Regions from separate parts of the Homo sapiens genome. Here all the other regions are linked to region 3. Evidence: fine-mapped expression QTL. A gene starts in region 3. Each other region holds a variant in brackets. All regions are shown on one strand. Distances are from middle to middle. Region 1 overlaps FAM53B (family with sequence similarity 53 member B). Region 2 overlaps FAM53B (family with sequence similarity 53 member B). Region 3 holds the start of FAM53B (family with sequence similarity 53 member B). Region 4 overlaps FAM53B (family with sequence similarity 53 member B).

Region 1 (2,679 bases), 49 kb after region 3:
CTACACTTTTCTCTTGTGGAATTATGGGTAAGTACTCAAGGCCATCCTGGAAGCTGTCCTCCTAGTCCTTCCAGCCAGGGTCTGAGTCCTCCAGGTGAGACACTCAAAGCACTTTCTGGACACAAGTTCAAAAAGAGCAGCCCCGGGACTCTTCTGTGTGTTTTAACTATTTTGGTCCCCTACGGTGCCTGAGTGAAGGGACAGGCACTGGTGTGTGGTTTACAACTCCAACATTGAGAATTTCTGTCTGATGATTAAAGTAATTCATGTTGATTTTTTTCATTCAGAAAATGCACAATAGTGTAAAGTATGCAATAAAAATCTCTCGTAGCCCCAATGCCCAGGGAGAGTTACTGTTGATATTTTTGTGTATGTTTATGTTCTTAGCATTTTTTATATAGCCCATTCCACGATGAACATATAATTATGTAAAACTATATTTGTTTGCTTTTTTCACTTGGAGTAGTTACCATCATCTTCCCACAGCATTAAAATTGTTCATTCCATGCATTTTAATGGTCTACAGTACCGCATTGGGTGGTAAATGTATCAGAATGTCTTTAGTGATGTAACTACATCTAGGCTGTTGGGTCAAGAGGCTGTTTTATTTGCTGTTGTGATGAACAGTGGCTAGGTAAGTGCCTAATTCTTTGTCTGCCTTTGTGATGATTTGCTAGGATAGTTTCCAGGAGTGGAATAGACAGGCTGGAGGGCAGGGACATTTTTAAGGCTCTTGATTCATTTTGCTGACATGCCTTCCAGAGAAGATTGCCTTGATCTTCTGTTTCTGTGCAAGTGTGAATTACTGTTTTTTATAGGCGGTAAAAAAGATGACCATTGATTACTTGATGCTTCAGATGATTGGGCATTGTTTGACCTCTCAGTGTCTCTCTGTGGCTCTCCTTGCCCACCTTTGGGGACGTCTTGCCGGATGAGTTTCTGTAACGTCTGCGTGGACTCAGAAACCACTCTCAGATGATAGATGATGATGACTGTGGGCTTTCAGATTCAAAGGTTACTTTGGTCAGACCTCAGAGTCTCCCTTGCCTTTCCTTCTCGGTCCTCCCTCCATGTGCGGTGTTTTGTTTTTCTTCTTCAGATACAGTTGCCATAGATGAGGTGATGTGTCAGATTGAGCACTGTGCCAGGCTCCTTACATGCTGGGCCCCGCTGGCTCTGCCAGTGGCATCATTCACATACGGGAGAACTGAGGTCTAGTGAGGTGGCCCTCTGCAAGGTCCCTCAGTAAGCGGAGTTGGACTCAGGTGGGTGACGAAGGGAGACTGTTTTCTTCTCAACCACCTGCCATGGCTCTGGGACACCTGGCGGTGCTCTTGATGCTGCCACTGAAGAAGATGGAGACAGGGAGATCAGCTGGCCCTGGTTTTCCATGTGACATACTTGGGAGGCCCGTCCCCACAGGATTGAATACCTCCCCGGTGGTTTACAGCTTTCAGCAAACCCTCAGGGCCCCAGACACATAGCTCAGAAGCCTGCCTCCTCGCCTGCTTCCTGGGACAACCTCACCTTTGCGCTTCCTTCCTGCGTCATGCTGGGAAAGAGAGAGGCCCCGGCATGCCCAGCCCCTCAACCCTGCCTAGGCTTTAGCTGTCAACCGGGCCAGACCAGTAAACTGGGTTGTGGAGATGTTGGTCTTTATTTCAA[G/T]GATTTCTAGTCTTTGCACTGTGTAAGTTATAATAAGGTGGAAGTCTGGTGGGTTTGTGATGACAGAGAGAGTCGCCCTTGTAGGGCCAGGTCTTGAGGCCCAGAGACCAAGGCAGAGGCCCCGGAGAAGGGAGGTGTGTGGGAAAAAGTCCAGATGGCCCAGGAGAGTCTATCGGAGGCTGCAGAGCCCAGCAACCTGCTTTCTACCGGGGAGGCCATGGTTTCCAGGAGGGACTACGCTGTGTCTGCAGACTCCTGTTTACAGAGTGGCTCTTTAGGAAGTGCTGGCTGGGTCCCAATGCCTCCGTCCCAGGCTCTTCTCCTCTTCAGCAGGGTCCTGTCTTCCTTCTGCTCTGTGGGACAGTGCCAGGGCACTGCCAGGCAGCAGAGGGAGAAGCGGGGAGCCGTTGTACTGGTGGGAGGTCTGTGGAGTCCCCTTGTTCTCCTCTGCTGCTCTCTCTCCATGGGTCTCATCTTTCTGTTGGTCGGCCCCTCCCTAATTCAGGAAAACCCTGACCTGCATGGCTGTGCATCACTGACGTGTTTCACTGACTGCAGTTTGTTTTCATTTTCAGTGGCTTGCTGTCATAGATATGACTTGAGCACCTGCTGTGTGTCAGGCACCTGGTGAGGGATAGAGTGAATCAGACCCTGCCCCTTCTCTCAGGGAGCTTTCTGTCTGGTGGAGGAGAAAGATCAACGAACAGTGAATTCTGCACTGCTTAGGCCAACTCCCGTGAGATGTGGAGGCCCTTGAGCTATGGGGATACCACCCCATCTTCCCGGCTAGGTTTCCTCAGTTTGCAAGTTGTGAGGATTTAAGGAGACGGCCACACACTAGCACACATCCTCCCTCCCACCTCTATCCCTTTCCTGCGCTTGCTGGAGCGGAGCGGGTGTCAGCAGTCAGGAGCCTTACCCCGTGCACTCTGTCTAGTGGAAGCTCAGGTTACCTCTCCAGTCCTCCGTGTGCTCCATGAACTGGGAGTGCACTCCACCCAGGCAGCGAGATTT
Region 2 (2,679 bases), 120 kb after region 3:
CTATGCGCACTCAGGGGTGAAGGGCGTCCGCTGGCCACTCTGCAGGGGCCCCTGCAGGATTCCAGGCACCTCCCGTTTGTCCTTGAGGACTGCTGGCTGTAACCAGGGCACATCACCCACCTCAAGACAAGCCCACGCCCTTGTCAGCTTAGGGGGAGCCCAGTCCTGAGGGCTGCATCTCTGTTGTAGGCCCAGCCACCGGCACAAAGCTGGATTCATGCTCCCTGCCCCTACCCCACCCTGGCTCCTCACCCTGGGGCATCCGAGGAGCCTAGCCCCCTGAGGGTTTGCTCTCCTCTCAAGGTTTGTAGCTCCTCTCCGGCTGCCTTGCAGACACCACCACATGGGCTCTGCTCTATGGGAATCTGGCTTTTAGCGAATGTGGCGTCTTCTGCAAACAATAGCAATTGGGCTGGCTTAGGAGCAAGTGGCTCATTTTCCCATAAGGCTAAAAATAACTGGTGCGCTCCCTTGTGTTGGCTGACACGCGCGTTCAAAGCACTTTTGTAGTCACTTTGCTTTTGCTCGTCTTCATGGACGAGTGAACGCCTCGCTTCTGCAGGTTGAGTCCAGATGCTTCTCACCTTCTTTCTCCTCAAGAAAGATGCTTTTTGGGAAACGTTGTTTAAATCTTATTTTTTTACTACATCAAAAGGATGGTGGTTCAAGTTCCCAATATGTGGGTGGCACTTCTTAAAAATCAGCTTTAAGGAGCTGGCAGAAAGCCCCCAGCCCCACAGCCCTGAGAGATGGTGTTGCTAGCTCAGGTGGCTGACACATGGGGTATGCCGGGCACTGGGCAGGTCCCAGAGCCGGGGAACCAGCTCACCTCTGGTTGCTGTAGCTCCTGCCGGAGGCATGTCTACTTGTGATCCCGGACAGCCGAACCCAAGAGCTGGTGGCTCTGAGCAGACAGAGACATCTTGGCCTGTCCCTGCCTGGGGGTCATGGAGACCATGTCTTCTTAGAGCAAATGTGGAGGCGGCCAGGGCAGTTGTTGGGTGAATGTGGAGAGCACATGGCCATGTCTTGCCCCCGGAGTACCACTGGGCGTGGGGGGTCCTGGCACCACATGCCCGGTGTGGCCGAGGGCACACAGCCTCTATAGCAGGCCTTCCTGTGGAAGGCAGAGGCAGTGAGGGAGGTGGACGGTGCCAGCTGAGGCTGAGGCATGCAGCAGCCCCCAGCTACCTTTGCTTAGGGCTGGGGTGGGAGGCACATGGTGACAGGTATATGTCGTGGGACTGGGGTGTGGGTGACCTGCCCTCAAACCTTGCCTGCCACCTCCCCATTCAGGCCTGGTGGCAGGAAGGGACAAGCTGTGGAGCTGGCTGAGTCACAGCCACCTCCCCACCTCCCCGCAAGCTGGTCCCATCGACCAGCAAGCCCAGCCCCAGGGCGCTTAGG[G/C]AGAAATGACCCAGCCTCCTCAGACCCCGCCTGCCTGTCCTGTGCCCACCACGCAGCAGTCAGGGGAGAAAATGGTGGCTATCCCTTCTGCTTAGAGAAAGAAATGGCCTTTAGCTGGTTTCATGTTTGTGTTTTGACTGGAGGGAGTAGACCCTATCTATAAGGTGCCACCCCATCATCCAAGCTGCCACACTGCCCGGAGCAGCCTGTTCCTGCACTCCACCCTGCTGGCCCCAGGACTTCTGATCTCAGTCCTCTGGGAGGGAGGTTCGCCTAGGAGGTGCCCCCCACATTGGTGTCCCCATGGGCAGCAGGCAGACAGCTCACCCCCACCAGCATGATGGCCCCAGCTGGGGGCAGTGGCAGGAGCCTTACTTTTGTCACAGCCTTGCCCACAAACCCTGCCTCTGAGGGGAGACTGAGGAAGGGCAGAGCCAGAAGCAAGCCGTGCCAGGCCATCTGCCTGCTCATGGGGTCCTAAAGCGCGGGCTAAGCCTGCAGGAAAGCCGGGGCGGTGGGGGGGGCTTAGTGCCACATGCACCCCACTCATTCCAAAGCCACCAAACTGCCAGGGGCTGCCGTCCACCCGTGGGGCCCAGGGGCTGGGGCCACAGCCTTGCCATTTTCGTTGCCATACCCTCTTGCCTTACTCGCGGTGGAGGCCGGATTTGCACGGGCAGACGTGCACCTGGGCCCGTGGGGAGCTTGTTCTGACCAGACGTACAGATTTTCATTCTCAGAAAGCCTTACTTTTCAACCAAATTTTTGTAGCCAGTTTTGTGAATTTGTACACTGAAAGAAAATTTAAATAAAGGGGAAGTCCACATTAAAAAGAAAACAAAACAAACCCTAACTAACTTCCAAATGGGTCTCCTGGTGCGGGGGCGTGAGTGGCCGTGCCCTGGGTGTGCTGCCTGTCTGAGCAAGCTTCCCTAGCTGTGGAACCCCGGGCCCCCTGCTGCGGGCTCTGCCTTGGTGTCATGCCTGCTGCACCCCCGTTTCCACTGACGTGCCGTCTGTGGCTATGGGGGTGGTCACTGGAATGACGGTCACTCCAGACGTCAGCCGGCAGGGATGCAGCAGGCTGGCCGCGCACCGGGGCTCGGGCACCCTCTGGCCCCACACTGGCAATGATGCCACACCTTGCCATGTCCACGCTGTTGGTCAAACCCCTCTGTCATGCCTCTTTAAAGAGAAAAGAAGAGAAAGATTTTTTTTTTTTTTAATGGCAGACCGAAGTGGAGATCTTGTAGCCTAGATAGGATAGTCTGA
Region 3 (2,679 bases):
ACTCTATCCCACATCATGTAACTTGAAATGAATAGACTCATATCCTTTCCACTGATTGCTGTCCATTCTAATCATGCAGCAGAACTCAGTGGAGCGAGCTGTAGTGTGAAAGGAGATGTCAGTTCATGCTTTTCTGAAAAGAATGGGTCCGGTGTGATGATATTCTGAAATATTTCAGCAATAGCCATGAAATATAATAGTTTCCCAAGCACACAAAGCTCAAGAAGTTAATTGTTCATTTATGTTTGATACTGGGATTGAAACATTGGATTAAAACCAATTAAATGTTCCTAGAAGCAACAGAAAAAGTTTCCTTATTTATGAATAGAACCATTCAAATGGCGCAGACACAATCCATGTAAAGTAATGAGGTGTTTTGTTTTTTTGGCAAAGGAGAACACAAAACAGGCATAGGGAGTTTTAAAAAAACTTCTCTTTAAAAATCGCTTTTTGGATACAAGGTCAATAAAATAACATACACCAGTAGGAAGGAGTAATGGGAAATCTAGGGCTTCACAAGGAAAACAATCCCCCTCCCCCAGGTGAGCAGCACAATGAAAATACTCTGCTTATTCTATCAGGGTTACATTCCTGAACTTAAGTCAACATCCTAAGTTACAGAACTAAACATGCTCTGCCTCTGCTTAGCAACCACAAATCCTTCCTTCGCCAGTTGCATGTATTTTGGATGTGGCTTCTGAAGTACACAGTCACAGCGCCCCGAGTTAGGAAATTTGCGCTTTATTTTCCCAAAGTGTGACAACACTTTAAGGTCCCCCCTCCCCGACCCCACCCGCCCGCTGTCCTGCACGCCACTGAAGTGATCGTTTCTTTTGAACCTCGGCATCTAACAACCCGGAAGCTGGACGCCTGAAGCCTATGCGGCCCAGCGTTTTCATCCCGGCTCGTGCTGGGGGCGGGGAGAGAAGCCCGTAGGGCCTCTGGCGCGGGGCCCGGGCAGCCGCGGTGGCGCGGCCCAGGCCCGGGGCCACTTCCCGCGTCCCGGGGCCTCGCAGGCGCGAGCGCGGCGAGCGGCGCGCGGCTGAGCCCGCAGGACGCCCTCTAGCCCCGCCGGCGGCGCGCCGCGAGTCCCTCACTCCCCGCCCATCGGCGGCTGCGCGCACTGCACACTCGCCTGCCGCCGCCGCCGCACGCCGCCTGCCTCCTGCACGCCGCCGCCGCGCCTAGCGCCCGGGCCCGCGACACCGCCCGCTAAGCGCCGGGCCGAGTTCACGCAGCCGCGGTCTGGCGGCTCCGCGGCGGCGGCGGGTGCGGGCGGCCTGGCCGGTGCCGGTTAAAGGGACGAGTTGCAAACACTTCAGGAAGTGACAAGTCGATTTCCTCCTCCCCGGGAGTCGCTCGTACAAAGCGCTCGGCGCCGGCAGGCGAGCGTGCGCGCGGCGGACGCGCGGCGGGCACCCCGGACGACTTGGCGAGCGCTGGCGGTGACGGCGCGGGGTCCGCGCCCGGAGCGCCCCGCCGCGCACAGTAAGCGACCCGGGGCCGGGCGGCGGCGGCGGTGGCCGGGGGGCTGGCCCCGAGCGAGGTCCGGGCCGTGTGCGTCCCGGCCGCTGGCTGGAGGGAGCCCGGCTCGCGTGCGCAATGGGCTTGCCTTTTTTTTTTCTTTTTTCCTAATGTTGCTGGTTTCCTTTTTTTCTGCCTTGTTTCGCCTTTGGGTTGGGTCGGGCGGTTTCTCCGGGCGCTCGGTCTCGCCCCTGATGCAGGCGTGAGACTTGTCAGAGCACAGGCATGGGGAAGAACAAGCCTGGCTGCGGCGGAAAAGTCTGCGCTCCCCAGGCCAGGGCGGGCGGGCGCGGGGACTGCTGCGCCCGGGGGTGTCCTCTCCGCGTCTCAACTTGAGCCCTGACTAGCCGCTGCGGAGGAGGCGCGGAGTCTCGGGAGCCGGGCGGCCCCATTCGCCCCGAAGTTCCCGCATCGTTTGCAGACAACTCTTTTGTTCGCGGAAGTTTGCACCCGCCACCCCCGGGGTGCGGGAGCGAGGCGGCGGGCTCCGCTGCTGCTGGACTGTCCGGGGCGGTCAGGATGGGGGTGAGGGGGCATTCTGTCCCGGGCGGGGGAAGCCCGCGGGGAGGCCACCGCTGGGGCTTGCGGAGTGGGGGCGTCCGCGCCGGCGTGGCTTTTGCACATGGCGAGAAGGGCCGTCCGGCACAGGCACACTGGTCGAGTCACATTTTTGCTAGTCTTGGATTTTGCAAGCCCGTGGGAGTCAGGTTCCCCGCTCAGGGTTTCTCTTGGGGCAGAGACGAAAGAAACGAGGACACCCAGAATCCGGGGAGGGTTTGCGGTTTGTGTTGTCCCAAGTGTGTTCTCGCTCCCCCCGCCCCCCCACCTTGTCCCCCAGCCCCCAGCTCTCCACCCCCATTTTCGGACTTGGGGAACAATGCTTGTAGTACGGGCCGGGGCGCCGCAGCAGCGACGAACCGCGCGGACAGGTTTGCCCGGGTCCCTCGCGTTCGGACGCCCCCTGAAGCCGAGCTCCTTCCATCTGACCGCCCGGGCTCATTAACACGTACTGTACTTAGGACGATGGTGAACAAAGAAAAGCTCTTTGCAGCGTTTGATGAATGGGATTCTGCCTCCTATAGGCCACACTCCGAGTCTTCCATACGGTACAATCTCCGGACTCGGTGGTGTTAGGAAAGTGGCCCCCGGAATGGC
Region 4 (2,679 bases), 92 kb after region 3:
CCTGGGGCTTTCTAGCTGAGTTTCTGCACAGCACTGGTCAGTATAAAGAAGCTGGAGAATCCAGCTGGCATCAACCCTGAACTGGGCAGCAGGTGTTCCAGACCTGGCCACACATGGACTCCCCCATCTGTCCAGCACCTTGGAGGTCCCAAAGTGCGTTCTTGCATCCTGTTCATTTCTTCCTCACAGGATCCCTCTGAGATAGGCTCTGCGTGGGCCATGTGGACAAGGAAAGCGAGGCTGAGACTGGGAGGGTCCTGGCCAAGGTTACCCTGAGAAGATAGTGGTTAAGAGAGGGCTTTGACCCAAGTCTGGCTCATGAGTCTGACCCCACTGTGCCAGCGAGACCCAGCTGGGCCTCTTTGCCCTACAGATGAGTGCCGTCAGCTGGGCCAGTGTCCTGGCAGGGGCCCGCAGCCCATCTTGTTCTTGCAAGACCTCTTGAAAGTGTAACACGGAGAGTGAGGCCTGGCCATCCGGGACCCTGGCAGTGCCTGGGTATTTTCAGCTCTGTGAGATGCCCCTGTTGAGTCCATCAGGGTCCCCACGCCAGAGCCCTTCTGGCAAGCCCCTGCTTTACTCCAACCCTCCTGGCATAAAGGAAGCTGGTTGTCCCAGCCTCAGGCACAGCTCTTCTGGAAATCTGGAGGACATTACCTCCTGGCTGGCCTTGAGCTTGGGGCTGCATCTGAGAAACATATCCAAGCCTATGGGCTTCTCCCCATTCACTGAGCAGGGATAAAAATCCTATCAAAATAGTTTTTGAAGAGCAAGGCCCTACCAGTGTCATTGGGGCACATGAGGTGAGGCAGGCAGCCCTCAAGGCTCTGTTTAACTTAGTTATCTGCAGAGCCCTCCGGGACCTGGTTGAAAAATGCTGTCCTGGCCTCAAGGGCACGTGGGTCCTACCTCTTAGGGCCTGGCAGCACAGTCTCCTCCTGGCCAAGGCATCTGGGTGCACAAGGGAAGGTAGGGCCATTTTGTCTACAGCTCCTTTGATTGGTCGAGCACACACCAACACAGGGCGTCGTCTGCCTGTGTGGGCTGGAGAGGCAAGAGGCTCCTCTGCCCTGGGGACTAGCCTGAGGGTTCCAGCTAGTAGATTTTTGCCTTTCTGTGGTTTGCTCGGCCGTTCCCTGGGTACTCTTGCTACCTTCCATATTGAAGGAAGTGGACCCCGAACTGGAGCCATATAGGACAGATGGGGAATGCTGCTGCTTCAGGCCCTCCACCACAAGGCTTCCTTGTGTCATTAAAATACATACTGTCCTTTCCCACTACCTGTGGGACTGGTGTTTGTGATAGCCCTGGAATGTGAGCACCAGGAAACACTGAATGTCACTCACCTCCTTGGACCCCTTGCCTCTGCAGGTGAAGCCACTGAGGCCAGAGGAGGGAAGTGGCTGGCCATGGTCACCCAGGGTTATCACCGTGGGTGACAGGCTGGGACCAGATGTGAGTGCAGCTGTGGGCCGGGCCCCTTCTTCTCTCTAAGGCTGTGGCCACAGCCTCCTCTGACACCTGACAACAGCATGAACTCAGCCCATCCCGGTGTTGCCCAGGGCCTCAGTTTCCTGATCTGTGAATTGGGCATGAGTTCCTTGCTCA[G/A]TTCACCCCTGGGCACGGCTGGATGTGAACGTATTGTGCACATGGTAAGACCCTGGCTAGTCCTAAGCCCTGGTATTATGGTTGACACCTACTGAGTAGAAACAGTTGGGAATTGATAGCTTTTCCCTCTGCGGGTTTTCATAACCATTGCTGGACACCGGCAGGGACAAACTTGGGAAAGTCTTGGGACCCAAGTGGAAGAGAGGACTATAAATGAAAAACTAGAGGGGATAATTCCAGCCTCAAAAGCATGCTCGTGCTTATCACACTTTGATGTTGGCTTTGAAATTCTCCAGGTATGCCCTTTGGAAAGGGACTCCTGGAGGGCAGGGGCCTCGCTTCCTGGCCCCTGAGTTCACATTGCTCAGGAGAGCACCTGGTGGACCACAGATGCTTCACAGATGGGGGACAAATAAAGGAACCAGCAAGCAAAGGCTGTCTGGGTTGAGAACCGCCCTCAGTCGCAGTTGTCCTGACGCTGGGGCTGGCGTGAACGTTCCAGGCCCAGTCATAGTAGACAGCAGGGGTGGCGTGTCCCCGCCATGTGCCAGTGCCCAGTCACTGCCGACCTGAGGCAGGGGCTAGACATCTGTGGGGCTCTGCTGACCTTGACCCTCCAGAGCAGGCAGGCCCCAGGGTCGGAAGTCAGCTGACAGTCTCCACAGTGCTCCCCTGAGGAGGAAATGAGGAGGCCGCTGGGCCTCACTGTCTCGGAGGTGGGGGTGGCAGGGGAGAGCAGCAGGAGGAGTGGGGTGCATAGTCCAGGTCCCTGGTGCCGTGTGTGGGATTGTGATTCCGTCCAGCGGCTGGGCTCCCTGCTACAGTGCCTGCAGTTCAGCAGTGAGGGGCCACAGCATGCCTTTATACTGCCTCCCCTGGCAGCCCTCTTAGCTTCATCCCTGCCTGTCCTGTGTAGCTGGGAGGACAGAGCAGAGCAGGCTCAGGAGGATGCCAGGCAGCACCCTCTGCTCAGCCGCACCCCTCCAGCCTCCTTCTGCACCTTTGGGAAGGTGCAGAGGGAAATGGAACACGAGGGAACTGAGTTAGGGCCCTGGGGCCTCAGCTCCTGGA

The links. PIP is the estimated chance that this variant, and not a neighbour inherited with it, causes the effect.
Region 1: its variant is fine-mapped to the expression of FAM53B in whole blood (TOPMed, PIP 0.95).
Region 2: its variant is fine-mapped to the expression of FAM53B in whole blood (TOPMed, PIP above 0.99). The same link has a PIP of 0.9 or more in putamen.
Region 4: its variant is fine-mapped to the expression of FAM53B in whole blood (TOPMed, PIP above 0.99).

What each region holds. Positions count from the first base shown.
Region 1 is chr10:124,693,506-124,696,184 of GRCh38, reverse strand. FAM53B (family with sequence similarity 53 member B) reads left to right here. Exons shown (of 5, transcript NM_014661.4): 3 at 1-27. Among named protein-coding and RNA genes, the nearest start is that of FAM53B-AS1, 9.2 kb to the left of the region's middle. The variant G/T (reference allele first, on the strand shown) is at 1,666.
Region 2 is chr10:124,619,608-124,622,286 of GRCh38, reverse strand. FAM53B (family with sequence similarity 53 member B) reads left to right here. Exons shown (of 5, transcript NM_014661.4): 5 at 1-2,679. Among named protein-coding and RNA genes, the nearest start is that of FAM53B-AS1, 83 kb to the left of the region's middle. RefSeq lists enhancers at 96-596, 1,949-2,078. The variant G/C (reference allele first, on the strand shown) is at 1,408.
Region 3 is chr10:124,742,822-124,745,500 of GRCh38, reverse strand. It overlaps FAM53B (family with sequence similarity 53 member B), which reads left to right and starts at 1,123. Exons shown (of 5, transcript NM_014661.4): 1 at 1,123-1,488. RefSeq lists silencers at 885-1,024, 1,155-1,204, 1,225-1,334, 1,385-1,544, 1,865-2,074 and 1 more.
Region 4 is chr10:124,651,253-124,653,931 of GRCh38, reverse strand. All of the region lies in intron 4 of FAM53B (family with sequence similarity 53 member B), which reads left to right. Among named protein-coding and RNA genes, the nearest start is that of FAM53B-AS1, 51 kb to the left of the region's middle. RefSeq lists an enhancer at 2,629-2,679. The variant G/A (reference allele first, on the strand shown) is at 1,609.